Linked DNA regions of Homo sapiens: regions 2 and 3 are each linked to region 1. The links come from fine-mapping of genetic effects on gene expression. A gene starts in region 1. Each other region holds a variant in brackets. All regions are shown on one strand. Distances are from middle to middle.

Region 1 (5,222 bases):
GTTAATTTTTGTATTTTTAGTAGAGACTGAGTTTCACTATGTTGGCCAGGCTGGTCTCCAACTCCTGGCCCCAAGTGATCTGCCTACCTCGGGCTCCCAAAGTGCTGGGATTACAGGCCTGAGCCTCTGCGCCCAGCCCCCTCTTCTGCTTTCTAAGTGTCCATTCTCCTTGTAGTGAGTGGGTGGTGGGGGGATATACACATGTGACTCTGGTTAGTACATAGGCAGCCATGAAGTCCACAAATGTACAGGGAGCCACAGCTTTCATGCTACAGACTTGCAAAGGTATGCATCTGCTTTCCCCTTGCCCTGGAATATAGATCAGAACACTTCATTTAGTGAAGGGACCTGTTCCGAGAGTGATGATCCCTCCCTCGTTTGAGACACTGCCTTCATCCTGAGCTTCTTGGAGCAGCCCAAGGCCCTGCCAGCTCTCTTTGCCTGTAGCTTGTAGGCATTTATGACAGTTGCATACCCTGCCCTCCAACGGCAGCCTGAGAGACTGAACTATTACCAAGTTCACCTGGAAAAATGTCACCCTGATTGATTAGAATGGTGGGTGGCCATCTTAGCTCATTAGAATCACCTGGGAAGTTAAAAAAAAAAAATCCAGTATGCACTCCAAATTTTCCCACCACCACTCCTCCCCACAAAAAGAAAATTTAAAAAATCCCAGTGTTTGGGCCATATCCCAGACCAATTAAGTCAGAATCTCCAGGGATTGGACCCAGGTAGCAGGATTTCTAAAAATCTCCCCAGCAGCCAGGCCTGAGAGCTAATGAATAGCACCACAGGGCCCAGCCTTTCAGCCTACAGCTTGTCTCGGTTTCACCCTTTTTTCATTTCTTTACAATGAAAATTCTAAATAGTTGATCACAGTGCCAGACCAATAAGAAAGCATTTTAGGGAGGAGAGAGGAGGGAAGGGGTTGGCAGGCACGGAGAGGACTTGACACACAGAAAGCATTTTGCTATGGAGTCATAACCATTTGATTCTAAGACACATGCAGCCTCCAGAAGTCATGCGGCCCCGCCCTCTGCTTCCAGGAGGGAATGAACTTGGCCGTCCTTTTGTTGCACACGCCCGGGAGCTGCGCCGGCGCAGCGCGCCCTGCAGCCTGGGAGCGCAAGCGTGTGCGCCACTGGTCCTGGGCCACCACCGCGCGCCGCGGGCGGGTGCAGGGCCCCTCTGCCGCAGGGAAACCGGCGTTCCCCGCGCAAAGCAGCCGCTGCTCCTAATGAGCTCATGGGTTCACCGCGCTGAGCTAGCCAGAGCGGACCCGGCTTCGCCAAGGGCCTGCTGGCTGTCCTGACACCTGGCCTACCTCGGGGGTGCCTGGGTACGCTCTTCCTTTGCCTGCGGGATAGAAGCACAATGAAAATGGGGTGGACGTGGCTGGGAGACAGCCCTGCTCTCTGGCAGGCTCTGGGGAGTGTGTGGTACGTGGCATCCGCACTGGTGGGTGTCGTGCGATGATCGAGACACGGATACTGGGTGTCTTTCCCACTAGGGGAGAGAGGGCTGCGTTTAGAGGGAAACGAAATAGATCCGAGAAACACAAAGATGTCACAAAGGAAACGCTTCCCCACCATAAGCAATCTAAATAAATGATTCTTAGAAGACATCCAGCAAAACACATAACCTTGTCATTTAGATTCGCTCGCCCACAGGGGGACTGGAGGGTACTCACCGACTAGGGCTTCACAGCCGCATCACCGCCGGCGGTGGGCGCCTGCCTCGGCAGGGGCAGGGTGGGTGCCCGCAGGGCACAGGTGCCGCCGTGGCTGCTCGCACAACCCCTGCAGCTGCGATCCCGCCCAGTTAGCCTCGGGGGCTGCACAGCCCAGCCCCCTCGCCCAGGGCCCAGGGGTTCTCAGGCCGCGCGGCGAGGACGGAGGGCTGCCCCGGGTGCCTGCCTACGCGGGCGCTCCCCGCCGGGACTCCGCCGGGGCTGCAGGAGCGCGCGCTGCTGGCTGGGCGGGCTGCGGCTCCGCGCGAGCGCCGTGGCAACGCGAGCGGGCGCCCCCAGGAGGCCGCGGAGCTGCGGCGTGGGACGCTTGGGTGAGGCTCAAGCCAAAACCAAACCCAAACCATTTCTCCTCCTCCCCATCTTTTCATTTTCTCCCCTTCTTTTCATTTTCTCCCCTTCTCCAACCCCTTCCTCGACACACGTTACTAGCACCTCGAAGGTTGGAAATTCCAGCACTCTCCTGAGGCCTCTTCCCCAGCGAATCCTGCTAACCACGCAGTCGGTGTTCGCTGTGTGTTCGAGCACACACCTCCTTGCAGTGGCTTCAGCACCCAGGTCTCCGGGAGCCAGTGAAGGAACCAAGTGTTGGATACTGAGCAAGTCGCGTAACATCTGAGTAGTCGTGAAATTGAAATTTCAACGGTATAAAGGACACGACGTTGTCTTACAGATTGAAAAATGCTATAAAATGAAGTTCTTACTGTTACTATGATGATGACCCTGGAGATCAGCGCAGAGCCCTGGGGGAGGGCTACAGTTGCAAGCGCTCCAAGGATCAGATCGCGCACTCCTCCCCACCGGAGAAAACCTCTTGATGCCGGAGCCCGGGCAGCCTCTTCCACACTTCCAGCCAGCCCCTTCCACACTTCCAGCCAGCCCCGGCATTGCCACAGCCCGTGGAGCTGGACAGAAATCCACCAGGCACTAAAATAAGTTAGATGGAAGACGGGATGGATTTGACCAAATTCCTATCAGCATCTGCTCAGTATAATTGCAACATTATAATCAGAGCAGAAAGAAGCCCAGAGATTATTTTGTCTTCAAGGATCATTGGCCTCAGTATTATCTCCATCTGAAGCTGTGTTGTCCAAAGCAGATTGACTCCAGCCGGCCAGCTCAGAAGAGGGCCGACTCTGGGCTGGCGACTCCTTGAGAAGGGCTCTCTCTGGTCCCAGGTGGTATTTACTTAACCGTATCATCATCTGCTTCATTCGTGTTCCCTTCATGTCCATCATGTGAGGACGGGAACTGACAGGGCCAGGGTGTCGGCTCAGAGGCAATCTCTGCTCATCCTCTAGAGCCCCACTTCATCACCCAGCCACTCTGTCCACTGTCTCCCCACCTACAAACCTGCAGGTGTTCTGCCCCAGTACTAGAATAAGGGAACACATTTTTACTGAGCTCTGACAATGTGACTGGGCTTTTCAGGAGCTATTTCATTTAATTTTTAATGTAAAACATTGTTTTACATATTAAGAACCTAAAAGCACAAACAGTAAGTAACTTGCTTGTGGAAGCTTATGCAGCGAGATAAGTGGTAAAGCTGCAATTCCCAGTTTTGTTTGATGCCACAGCTGAAGGTGCAAGGCCATCTGGGCACGGCCTGAGTGGATATTAGGGAAAAATGCCCTAAAAGGTCCAGAATCTCTAATAATTTCTCCTACTTCTCATTTTATTTTATTTTTGACGCTGGAGTTTTTTTTTTTTTTTTGAGTCAGGATCTTGCTCTATTGCCCAGGCTGGAGGGCAGTGGTGCAATTTCAGCTCACTGCAACCTCTGCCTCCCAAGTTCAAGCGATTCTCCTGCCTCAGCCTCCTGCATAGCTGGGACTACAGGCATGCACCACCATACCCAGCTAATTTTTGTGGAGATGGGGTTTTGCCACATGGCCCAGGCTGGTCTCAAACTCCTGAGCTCAAGCGATCTGCCCTCATCAGCCTCCCAAAGTGCTGGGATAACAGGCATGAGCCACTGCACTAGGCGAAAACGTTTATTTTAGAAAAACTGAAAAATATAGAAACATAAAGGAAGAAAAGCATTCATAATCTCATCACCTAGAGAAAGCCATTAGTAATATTCATATTTCTTTCCAGTCTTTTTTCTAGCTTTCTAGCTTTAAACTAAGTTGAGATAAAACCACACACACACACACACAGACACACAAGTGCATCCTGCTTTTTGTTAAAAATAACTTTGTGGGAAATTCTTCCTCCTTTGAGGATTTTTAAAAAACATTAATTTAAATGTCATACAATATTTTTATCATATGAATATCTCATAATTTCCCTTTTATTGAATATTTCCAACTTTTATTGATTGTAAATAATGGCAATAAAATTTTTTCTTCATAAATCTTGCTCCTATGTGTGAATAATTTCCTTCCAGGTGAGTCCCAGAAGTGGAATATTGAGTCCAAGGGTATTAACATTTTAAAGACTTTCCAATCCTCTCCAATGGGGATATCCAACTCACCCAGCCCCGTTCCCCACAGGACCTGCACGGTCCCACTCCACTGCCCTCCACACATCTGTTGTGCCCTCACCTGGTATATAGCATTTAAATTATTTAGCTCACAAACTCTTTGGGAAACTAGGGTTAGTTCTTTGTAGCTTTTTGGTTGATTATTTTGATTTACTCAGAAAAACGCAGTATCTCCTTTACTATTTTAAAATCCTCAATAAGTAAGAATAGGGAGAGAAAATAAGAGAAAGGGGTGAGCTTTCCAAGGCCCTGGGTTAAGCCAGGGATGCCGGAGCTTGGAGCTCACTTGATACTGACCCTGCTGATGGCCTCAGCCTCAGTCCTGCTATAGAAAAGCTGCCCTGTCCCTCTGATCCTCACGTTTTAATCTCAGCATTTACTGCTGATGGGATGATTGGGTAAATTGAAAAACTTGTCAGAGAGGGTTAGGCTTTGATGGGTGGGGTAGGGGAGACCTCTCAGGAAAAGCAACTAGAGTAATAGAACTGTCAAAGGTTGGCAATAAGGCTGTGTGATCTCGCTGATGGTTCTCCAAGATGAAATGAAACCTAATGCTGCTTTCTTCTTCCTTGAGAGAAGATAGCAAAGAGGGCAGAAGGTGAGGGCTGGGGGCTCAATGTCAACTCTAGAATCTCTTTAAACCTTTTCAGCGTTTGTTTTTTTCCCCACTGAGAAAGTTAAGTGTGATGGGAGGGAATCTAGTCCTTTTGACTATTTTAAAATGTACCTTCTAAAATCAGATCAGGCCAAAAGGTTTTTTACTCTTGAATAAATTTAGGGCTAAAGGCTGTTGGAAAATTAATAGGAGTGGATTCAACGTGGCAATAGATCTTTTATAAATTCTCTTATTGAGTGAATTTCTGAATACTGAAAACAGTGTTTAGCACCTATTGCATTAAAGTGAGTATAAGACTAATACTTTGTATTAGTGACTTTGGCTGGGTGCGGTGGCTCATGCCTGTAATCCTAGCACTTTGGGAGGCCGAGGCG
Region 2 (5,222 bases), 32 kb after region 1:
TGGAGTGCAGTGGCACAATCACGGCTCGCTGCAAGCTCCGCCTTCCGGGTTCACGCCATTCTCCCACCTCAGCCTCCCGAGTAGCTGGGACTACAGGCGCCCGCCACCATGCCCAGCTAATTTTTTGTATTTTTAGTAGAGACAGGGTTTCACCATATTAGCCAGGATGGTCTCAATCTCCTGCCCTTGTGATCTGCCCACCTCGGCCTCCCAAAGTGTTGGGATTACAGGCGTGAGCCACCGCGCCCGGCCAGTCTGCTCCATTTTTTTTACATTCAAAATGCATTTCCCACTGCTAACTACCTCCACTTCCTCCCCCCAGATCTAGGCCACCCTCCTCTCTTCCATGTACCAAAACCCCTACCTATTCTTCCTATCGCCGTTCTTGGCCCCCTCTAGCCCATCCTGTACAAAGCAGCCCAAGAATGGCCTTTCTAAAGTAGATGCCACATCACAGGACTCTTCCCCTTAAAAAACCCAACAGAATCCAAACCCTTTCTGGTGGCCTGCAGTGACAGAGCTGACCCTGCCGGCGTTTGCCGCTCTTTTCCCTCCTCTCCGTTGGTCGCCGTGGCACTGTCCTATGGGCCTTCTTTTTGTCCCCTGAACACACCAAGCTCTTTTCTGACTCTGAGCCCTTCCACTCAATGGTCCATGCTACCTAGCAGCCCCCTCACCTTTCAGGCTGCAACTTTGACACCTGCTCAGACAGGCCTGCCCTAACCTTGTGGGCTAAAGGAGCCCCACATCACTCTCTAGCTGCAGTTTCATTTTGTTTTGTTTTTGAGACAGGGTCTCACTCTATCACCCAGGCTAGAGTGCAGTGGTGTGATCATAGCTCACTGCAAGCTCCGCCTCCTTCCATGATAGCCTCAAACTCCAGGCCTCAATGGATCCTCCCTCCTCGGCCTCTCAAAGGTCTGGGATTACAGGCATGAGCCACTATGCCCGGCCTCTATCTGCATTTTGTGTTCAGTGTACACTTATCAGTACATAAATTATCTTGGCTAGTCGTCATTTCTGTTGTCTATCTCCAACCACCCCCGAAGCCTTTCATCTCTAGCTCCCAGAGCTGGGGACTTGTCTTGTTTACTGCCGTATTCCCAATGCCTAGAGCTCATGTGGCATGCAGCAGGCACTGGCTATGGGTGGAGGTCTCCAGCTCTGCTCCAGCTCCTGTCCCACACGGTGAGTAGCCTTCAGAAAAGGAAGTCCTTGAAAAGTGGAGGCTGGGGCTTTGTTCGGCCTTTCCCTGCCCCTAGGCTTGCGTTCAGCCCGTGGCTGTGTGTCCCTTCCTGGCTTTGCCCCTGATTTGCTCAGTGTGGGTGAGCCATAGCCAGTCTGGTGCTGAGGAAGGGGGTGGATGGGAAGGGCGGGGCCCATATGTCAGTGAGACACAGGCCACAGTTCAGATGGATGGTATCAAGTCTTCATGACTTCAGCTGCACTTAGTTAAACATGGACCAGCCCATTGGAACCTTGTGGGCAGTAGTCTGATTTCTGCTGTCATTTCTGCTCTCTTCCAAGCTTCAATTAAGGGAGCAACAAAAGATCTCTATCATGAGCCATGTGTGGTGATCTCATCTGCTGAGACAAATATTTTTTTTTCTGGTTATATTTATAGAACACTCTCTTGTTTCCTTGAACAACCCTAGCTGGCATTATCTTGTTTACTTTCTCTTCATCTAGATTTGCATTTGCAGGGGGGCAGCTTTTATCTGTTGCTCTTAGCTGTGTGGGATTTCAAATTCCTCTGTTTTTCTTCTTTTAGCTTTCATCTGTGAGCTCTTTTAAAATCAAGCAGTTTGTAACTTATAGTTACCAAGGCAGTAATTAATATTATAAGAAAATAGACAACACCGGCTCCAGCTAAGCACTCTGTGATAATTTTTCTTAGCAGTGTCTTGTGGCCTTGCAGAGGAAAATGGAACTTGGTATTCCTTTCCCCTTTGTGCCAGTCATGTGCTTCCTGATGCCAGGCCTCCCTCCAGCCCTCCCATCACAGGGAAACTAGTACAGACCACCCCCACAGACCTGTGGACTGACACCTGACTACCTTTGGGGGCATCTGACCTTGCCTGCGGTCCCACGGTGACTCACAGTGAAACTAAGATGCACAGCTCGGGTAGGAACCTGCTGGCCCAGCAAGAGAATCTCTTCTTCGGGGACCCATTAAGCTAGGCTCTGTCAGGTGAGGAGAATGGGGACCCTGCAGGCAAGGAGAGACCGTGGGTGGGCTGAAATCTGTTCCTGCAGTCGGGGAAAGGCTGTGGGCTCAAGGAGGCATAAAGAGGCGACACCCAAGCAAAGGCAGCACTGTGCCGACTGTGTCTTTGGTGCCCCTCAACTTCTTCTTTTTTTTTTTTTTTTTTTGAGACAGGGTCTCGCTTTGTCACCCAGGCAGTGTCATGATAATAGCTCACTGCGGCCCTGAATTCCCAGGCTCAAGTGATTCTCCCACCTTAGCCTCCTGAGGAGCTGGGGCTACAGGTGTGGGTCATCATGCCTGGTTACTTTAAAAAAATTTTTTATAGAGACAGGGTCTTGCTTTGTTGCCCAGGCTGGTCTTGAACTCCTGGCCTCAAGTGATCCTCCTGCCTTGGCCTTTCAAAGTGCTGGGATTACAAGCACGAACCACCTCTCCCAGCCTAGGTTCACTTTTGCAAAAGGTGGTTATGGGTGCTTAACGGATCCAGATAGAGACCAAAGTGACTATGGGGTGCATATGTGGAGAAAGAGGAAGAGCTTTTTGTAGTCTAGATGCTCTTTCTGTACTTCCCCCTGGGCAGAAGCAGCAGCCCTGAGCCCCCACAGTGCTCGCCTTGTTCTGGGGACACACAGTGTAGTTGCATATGCCTGAGACACACTCAAATGAGCATCA[T/C]GAGCAAGGCTCAAGGCCCATGACGTCATCCTCTCACTGTTCTTGGCTTTAACTAGAAACTTACTGGTGACTCATGTCCAGTTTTGGCTTTAAAGGTAAAAGAGACTGGGAACAATTGGATACAGTCCATATAAGAACAAATAAAATGAATACTTGGAAAATAGGTCCTATGCGAATACAATTAGGACTACTTAAATTAGACTACAGCAGGCAGATGGAAGAGGTTATTTATATGAGGAATAGTGATAAACTCTTCTCTTTTATGCCTTTTTGGATGTAGATGGGATAGAAATGATATTCCTGCTTTATTTATTTCTCTCTACTGAAAACCAAATAAAAGAAATTGGGCTTGATTTGCAACTGCAGAGATGTAGGGTGGATATAAGGCATTATTTCCATATGTTGTTAGACACTGATCTTTCGGGGTACTTGTTTTTGTTTCTTTTTCTAAAAAATGTGAAAAAGCAAGGCACATCAATGATAGCTTTGCTGCAGTGGAGCTAGTTAATATTTTCTAAGTACCTGAGAACTAGGACCTTGGTAGAACCCCACAGAAGCCAGAAAATATATATTCCCTGTTTTCTGAAAGGTTCTGATATTAGGATTAGCTATTCTGATTGTTTTTATTCCTAAAAGTTAAATGCAGTGGGGTAGAGGGTAGAGCAAGTGGAAGGAAGATGTTGAGCATGTGTCCTGGCTCTGACATTCACTAACTCTCTGACCTTGGGTGAACATAGGGGCCTCATTTACAATGTGGTAATGATGATAGCTTTCCTTCTTAACTCACAGGTCATTAAGTGTGTTAAACAGCATCACAAATATGACAGCGGGCCATAAACTGTTGAGTGCTATACAAAGACAGAAACTATTCTTAATTTGGATAAACCATCCTTGATCAAATGTGTTTCCAGCTAAAAATTCTTGATGGAACTTGATTCCCAGGTTTGAATTTCAAAACCTGTGTAGTCCACGCATTCGAACAACCTCCTGTCCACCCACCCACTTGCCTCTCAGAGAATGTCTACTCTGTGGTAGGCACTGTAACAGGCATGGCGATGCCACGATGAATCTCACACAGTGCCTGGCTATGTGGGAAGGCAGATGACAGTCTGGTCAGGGTGGAGAGAGAAGGAAACAGGTCATTACAGTGCAGAGCGGTGAGCCCTCTGATCTGGCCAGGCATAGGTGCTGCAGGACCTCACCTGGGGGCCCCAGATCCAGCCTGGTGAGGACAGAAGGAAACTTCTTAGAAGTGCTCGCCAACCCAGGCTTGAGTGATAGAAGTTAGCCAAATGAAGAAGGAATGGGTTGGGGAGGACCCTAGCACCCAGAAGCAAAGTGAAAGCTCAGTACACTGCAAGACCTGCTGGTAAAGTTAAAGGTTACACGTTGCCCATGCAGGAGGACAGGGGAGAAGGGAGGCATGTCAACCAGAAGCCACCCCACGCCCAGCTTGTCTGCCTTGTTAGGGAGTTTGGACTTTATCTTGAGGTCAATAGAGAGCCTCTGAGAGGTTTTAAATAGGGAGTGTTAAGATCGGATTGAAATGTCAGAGATGTCACTCCTAATGCGATGTTGAGGATGAACTGGAGTGGGCAGGACGCTGGTCAGGAAGACCAGCAAGACTGTTGCAGCAATTTTGGGAGGAATGGAGGTGGCCTGACTAGGAGACGGTAGATTGGTCAAGAGTTTCAATGATGCAAGCAGATAGGACCATTGTTACAGAAGGAAGAAAAGGAGTGAGAAAGTTGGAAAGATAGGATGTTGAGATCAGAGAGTGGAAGATAAAATAGTTTCTGATGATGGCTGGGACCAGGGTGTAGCCTTCAGAATGGAGCTGAAAAATGAGTGGAGATGAAGGTCATGTGACATGAGGTCAAGGATGTGGGAGGTTTCTCCTAGGGCTTTAAAAAAATGTGGTAGAATATATGTAACACAAAATTAACCATCTTAACCTTTTTTTTTTTTTTGGAGATAGAGTCTTGCTCTGTCACCCAGGCTGGAGCGCAGTGGTGTGATGTTGGCTCACTGCAAGCTCCGTCTCCCAGGTTCACACCATTCTCCTGCCTCAGCCTCCCGTGTAGCTGGGACTACAGGCACCCGCCACCAAGCCTGGCTAATTTTTTGTATTTTTAGGAGAGACGGGGTTTTACTGTGTTAGCCAGGATGGTCTTGATCTCCTGACTTCGTGATCTGCCCGCCTCAGCCTCCCAAAGTGTTGGGATTACAGGCATGAGCCACCGTGACTGGCCCCCCATCTTAACTATTTTTAAGTGTATTAAGTACATTGTATGAAGAACATTAAGTGTGTTAAGTGGCATTAAGTACATTCACATGGTTG
Region 3 (5,222 bases), 23 kb before region 1:
ACTCAAGCTGTTGAATACACTATAAAAGAGATTTAAAACTTCTAAACCTGGAGCACAAGAAAAACTCACTATAAGACTTGAACAATCTGGGGCTGGATTTCTGACCTGAGAAGTACATCTGGCAATCAAATATGGAATGAACGGCATCCTCTGAGAGGGCTGCAGAGATGTGCTCACGGGAGAAGGTAACCACAATGAACTGGCCTGTGTGCGGCCAGGTAACCAGAAGGCGGGGCTTTCCCGCAGGCGGCAGCGACTGTAGGAAGATGTCTTTCTCAGCTTAAAACCCAGTTCATCCTCATCCCTGGAGTACAACGACTGTCTATGGAGCAAAGTGTCAGATGGGACCAAATACACATTGGTGGCCTGATATTCAAATGTCATCCTCTCCATGCACATCCCACTAAAAACAAGCTTAGGGGGAAAAAAAAAAAAAAAGCTGTCCACCTGTCCACAGTTGACCTTCATTCCTCTACATCAACCCGTTTCACATAAATCACAATTAACATCTGCATTAAACACCATTAAAAGAACACAAATGTGGTTTGAACTCTTGGACATACTTTCTCTGCATTCAGAGTCAGGAAGACCAGCCAAGATACGGGGCTGGTCCCCGCCCCTTAACGGGATGCGGCACAGAGGCCTTGCCTGAGGGGCCTGCCAGACCCCTTCGTCCCGGCTACCTACTGAGCAAGCGGGGTGGCGGCTCACCAGTGCCGCATGCCAGGCGGAGGGTCTCGCTGCGGCTGGCTTTCTGCTAGGCCAGGCAAGCCCGGTTCCGTGTAGGGCTCCTCAAGATGGTTTCTTAGCTGGGAATTTCCCATGTGCCCCGGAGACCTCCAAAAGCGCGGTCCCCTCGGAAGGCAGCCAGGGAAGGGGCATCACTGAGACTAGAGGCGAAGGCGGCTGCGATCGCCCGGCCGCGCCCACCGCCCCCACAAACGGAAAGGCGCGCCGGGGTCCTCTCGGCCACCTACCTGCCAGGGTCGCAGGAGCCCACGCTTGGCGCACGCTAGCTCCAGGCCGGGGCAGCGGGACGGGGAGGCCCCGAGGGCCAGGCCGCGGAGGCAGGACCCGGCGGAGCCTCGGCCCGGAGCCTGCGGACTCCGGTAAAGACAGAGACCTCCCCCGCCCCAAAAAGCACCCCCCGACCCCGCACCCAGAGCCGGGCTAAGCCCCCACCCTCCGCCTCCCGCCTGAAGCGGGCAGCCTCCCCGCGCTTCCCCGCGCCTGCTGCCCCGGAACTCAGGACCAGCCGGCGCACCTGGCCACGCATCCTCCGGCGGGAGGTGACCACACGGGAACGCGAGGCGGGGGCTTCCTCGCGCCCCGCCGGCCGGACGCAGGGTTATAAGCGCAGCCGGAAGGAGGCGCCCGCGCCGCGGCGGCTCCCGGCTTCGGCACTGCCCGGGCGGGAGGCTCGGCGCGCGTCCGCTCGCGGGGCCACCCGCTCCAGAACCGCCCGCCGGAACCAGCCCGGTGCCCGAGACCCCGAGCTCGGGCGCGAGCAGGATGCGGCTCCCCGGGGACGGTTGGCGCGGGTCGGAGTCCCGAAGCCCCGTTCTTACCTCTGCCTCATACTGCGGTGTCCCTCGGCGCCGGCGTCGCTGTGGCGGGCCAGTGCCGCCCTGTTCCGCAGCCCGAGCGTCCGGCGCGGTAGGTAGCAGCCGGAGAAGCGGCGCAGCCGGGGGATGGGCGGGCACATGGAAGGGCGGGGGTTGTGGCCCTCGGGCCGGACCACGGGACCCCAGCCTCGGGGGCGAGATATCTCAGTACACCTCGAAAACTGGCAAGCGGCCCCCGTCCTCAGGGACTCCATTGCTACTTGCACGCTCAGTCTTGCCAGAATCTCACGGGATATGTGCAAAAGGCAAAGAAATAAGCTGTCGCCACGCCCTTCGTCCTCTCCGTCCCCCTGCAGGATCCATATGGTACATTCCTCAAAGCCCAACGGGAGACGGGAAAGAACTGATTGGTTGGGAATCTTGGAAGGGGCGAGAAGCCACATGAAGTGGCCAATGGAGAAACCCGGTGGGCATATCAAAGCCTGCCCCCGGAGAGAAGAGAGGATGTATTTAAAGGGGACTTGTTGGCCGGGCGCGGTGGCTAACGCCTGTAATCCCAACACTTTGGGGAGCCGAGGCATGCGGATCACTTGAGGTCAAGAGTTCAAGACCAGCCGGGCCAACATGATGAAACCCTGACTCTACTGAAAATACAAAAATTAGCCGGGCGTGGTTGCACGGGCCTGTAGTCCCAGCTACTCTGGAGGCTGAGGCAGGAGAATCACTTGAACCCGGGAGGCGGAAGTTGCAGTGAGCCGAGATGGTGCCACTGCACTACAGCCTGGGCAACAGAGCGAGACTCCATCTAAAGAAAGAAAAAATAATAATAAAGGAGACTTGTTTGTTGCTCTTAGTTGCCGCAAAATGAAACTAGGATTTTCATTCTAGTTGGGAAGCAAAGAGGTTAGGGGGAATTTCAAATTTTTGGAGGAGGGCGCTAAGAGAAAATATAGAGCAGAGGGCGGGCGCGGTGGCACACGCCTGTAATCCCAGCACTTTGGGAGGGAGGCCGAGGCGAGCAGATCACAAGGTCAGGAGCTCGAGGCCGGCCTTACCAACATGGTGAAACCCCGTCTCTACTAAAAATACAAAAAATAGCCAGGCATGGTGGCGCGCGTCTGTAATCTCAGCTACTTAGGAGGCTGAGGCAGGAGAATCGCTTGAACCCAGGAGGCGGAGGTTGAACTGAGCCCAGATCGTGCCATTGCACTCCAGCCTGGACAACAGAGTGAGCCTCTGTCTAAAAAAAAGAAAACGAAAATATAGAGCGAATTGAACCAAATATATCTTGTATGACCTTGAGC[A/T]GGTAAGTACAACCCTCGGCCTCAGTTTCATCATCTGGTCCAATGAGGATACTGGAATGCACTTGGTGTCTGATGGCCTTCACACACTTCATGTGTGATCCTATCATCCTTTGCACAGGAATAGCAATACCTGCAAATATTCTTCAACTTTGAGCATTATCCACTATCTTAAAGAACTTTAGGCTGGGCGCGGTGGCTCACGCCTATAATCCCAGCACTTTGGGAGGCCAAGGCAGGCAGATCACGAGGTCAGGAGATCCAGACCATCCTGGATAACACGGTGAAACCCCATCTCTACTAAAGATACAAAAACAAAATTAGCTGGGCGTGGTGGTGGGCGCCTGTAGTCCCAGCTACTCAGGAGGCTGAGGCAGGATAATGGTGTGAACTCGGGAGGCGGAGCTTTCAGTGAGCCAAGATTGCACCACTGCACTCCAGCCTGGGCAACAGAGCAAGACTCCATCTCAAAAAAAAAAAAAAAAGAACTTTAGTTGAAAGTCGATAGACTTTCTGACACCTACTTTCAGCGACAGTATCAACCCCACCTTTGGTAAAGATGAATCCTGTCTTCTTTCTGGGTCCCTCATCTCTTAGAGAAGAATATTCTTCTTATGTGTGGGGCCCTCCACCTCCAAGTAGTTCATAATTTCTACTTCTCCAGGAAGCACCCCTTTCTCTTCCTTCTCCCTTCCTTCTCATAATCAGACAAAACTTCGATTAATAATTCATTCACCCAATGAGCTGTCCACAATTCCTGCCTTCAGCAACAAACCCCACTGCTCACCCCTCCCTAGAGCTGCGAAAGTGCTCGTCCCTAACTCAATCTGTGACAACCATTCAACCACACATGGCCAATTGTGCTTTCATCCACACTACAAGCCAAATTTCAGACTTTCTAACCACTCCTTGGGGTCTGCTCTGTTTTAGAGCTTTACACCAGCCTGCTAGGCTTACAATTTGGCTACCAAGCTTCAGCTCCATCTTCTTTAGTTCAGAACTTTTCAACCTCCCAACAGCTGGTCACCCCACTGCCACTCAACCAGCTTCCAATCACGCAGGGAGTCTGGGATACCCTTTCTTTATTTTTTTTTTTTTAAGATGGAGTCTCGCTGTGTTGCAAGTCTGGAGTGCGGTGGTGCCATCTCAGCTCACTGCAACCTCCGCCTCCCGGGTTCAACTGATTCTCCTGCCTCAGCCTCCCAAGTAGCTGGGACCACAGATACCTGCCACCACACCTGGCTAATTTTTGTATTTTTAGTAGAGACAGGGTTTCGCCATGTTGGCCAGGATGGTCTCGATCTCCTGACCCTGTGATGTGCCTGCCTCGGCCTCCCAGAGTGCTGGGATTACAGGCATGAGCCACTGCGCCTGGCCCCTGGGATAGCCTTTCTAATACCTCCAGATAACTCATCTTCCAACTATAATCCAAAGAGCTCTGGAAAGTGCATCCCTCCATGAAGCCTTCCAGATTGATTGCCAGAAGCTGCTAGCTTACAGAGCTTCCATTTCTACTCTGTGCCTTGCCATAACCCAACTGTCCATGCTCTCTGCCCCAATATACATTTCTTTTTTTTTTTTTTCTTTTTCTTTTGAGACTGAGTTTCGTTCTTGTTGCCCAGGCTGGAGTGCATGATCTCGGCTCACCACAAACTCCGCCTCCTGGGTTCAAGCGATTCTCCTGCCTCAGCCTCCCGAGTAGCTGGGATTACAGGCATGCGCCAACACGCCCAGCTAATTTTGTATTTTTAGTAGGGACGGGGTTTCTCCATGTTGGTCAGGCTGGTCTTGAAATCCCAACCTCAGGTGATCCACCCGCCTCGGCCTCCCAAAGTGCTGGGATTATAGGCATGAGCCGCCGTGCCCGGCCAATATACATTTCTTATTGACATATTTCCCTATCTCCCTGATGGCCACAGCAGCAGCAGCCACAGCTTACATTTATTAAGTGCTCACTATGTGCTAGGTACTGTTGGGAAGTGCTTTGCCCGCATTATTTAACTTCACCCTCATATCAATTCTGTGATGTTCCTTATTATTCGCCTTAGTACCGTTTTGCCTTCCTGAGGAAAACACAAGAGCTTAGTGAAACTGATCTGCCCGAGTGCACACAGAGGTCTGACATCTAGTGCCCCCACCATAACTCCACAACGCAATACTGTCTTGAGTTTCTTAAGAATCTACTGCATGCCAGATGAAAGATAATCTCATATATTTACTTATTTATTTTTATTTTTATTTTGTTTTTTTTTATTTTTTTTGAGGCAGAGTCACACTCTGTCACCCAGGCTGGAGTACAGTGGCGCAATCTCGGCTCACTGCAACCTCTGCCTCCTGATTTCAAGCGATTCTCATG

Evidence for each region. PIP is the estimated chance that this variant, and not a neighbour inherited with it, causes the effect.
Region 2: its variant is fine-mapped to the expression of MICAL3 in esophagus muscle (GTEx, PIP above 0.99).
Region 3: its variant is fine-mapped to the expression of MICAL3 in whole blood (TOPMed, PIP above 0.99). The same link has a PIP of 0.9 or more in blood mononuclear cells.

What each region holds. Positions count from the first base shown.
Region 1 is chr22:18,022,591-18,027,812 of GRCh38, forward strand. It overlaps MICAL3 (microtubule associated monooxygenase, calponin and LIM domain containing 3), which reads right to left and starts at 1,971. Exons shown (of 32, transcript NM_015241.3): 1 at 1,691-1,971. RefSeq lists a silencer at 1,699-2,108.
Region 2 is chr22:18,054,930-18,060,151 of GRCh38, forward strand. It overlaps LOC105372853 (a long non-coding RNA gene), which reads left to right and starts at 1,030. Exons shown (of 6, transcript XR_001755424.2): 1 at 1,030-1,188. The variant T/C (reference allele first, on the strand shown) is at 2,882.
Region 3 is chr22:17,999,825-18,005,046 of GRCh38, forward strand. The region is part of intron 1 of MICAL3 (microtubule associated monooxygenase, calponin and LIM domain containing 3); the gene reads right to left. Among named protein-coding and RNA genes, the nearest start is that of MIR648, 21 kb to the left of the region's middle. RefSeq lists silencers at 912-1,021, 1,152-1,341, 1,352-1,731 and an enhancer at 1,667-2,363. The variant A/T (reference allele first, on the strand shown) is at 2,870.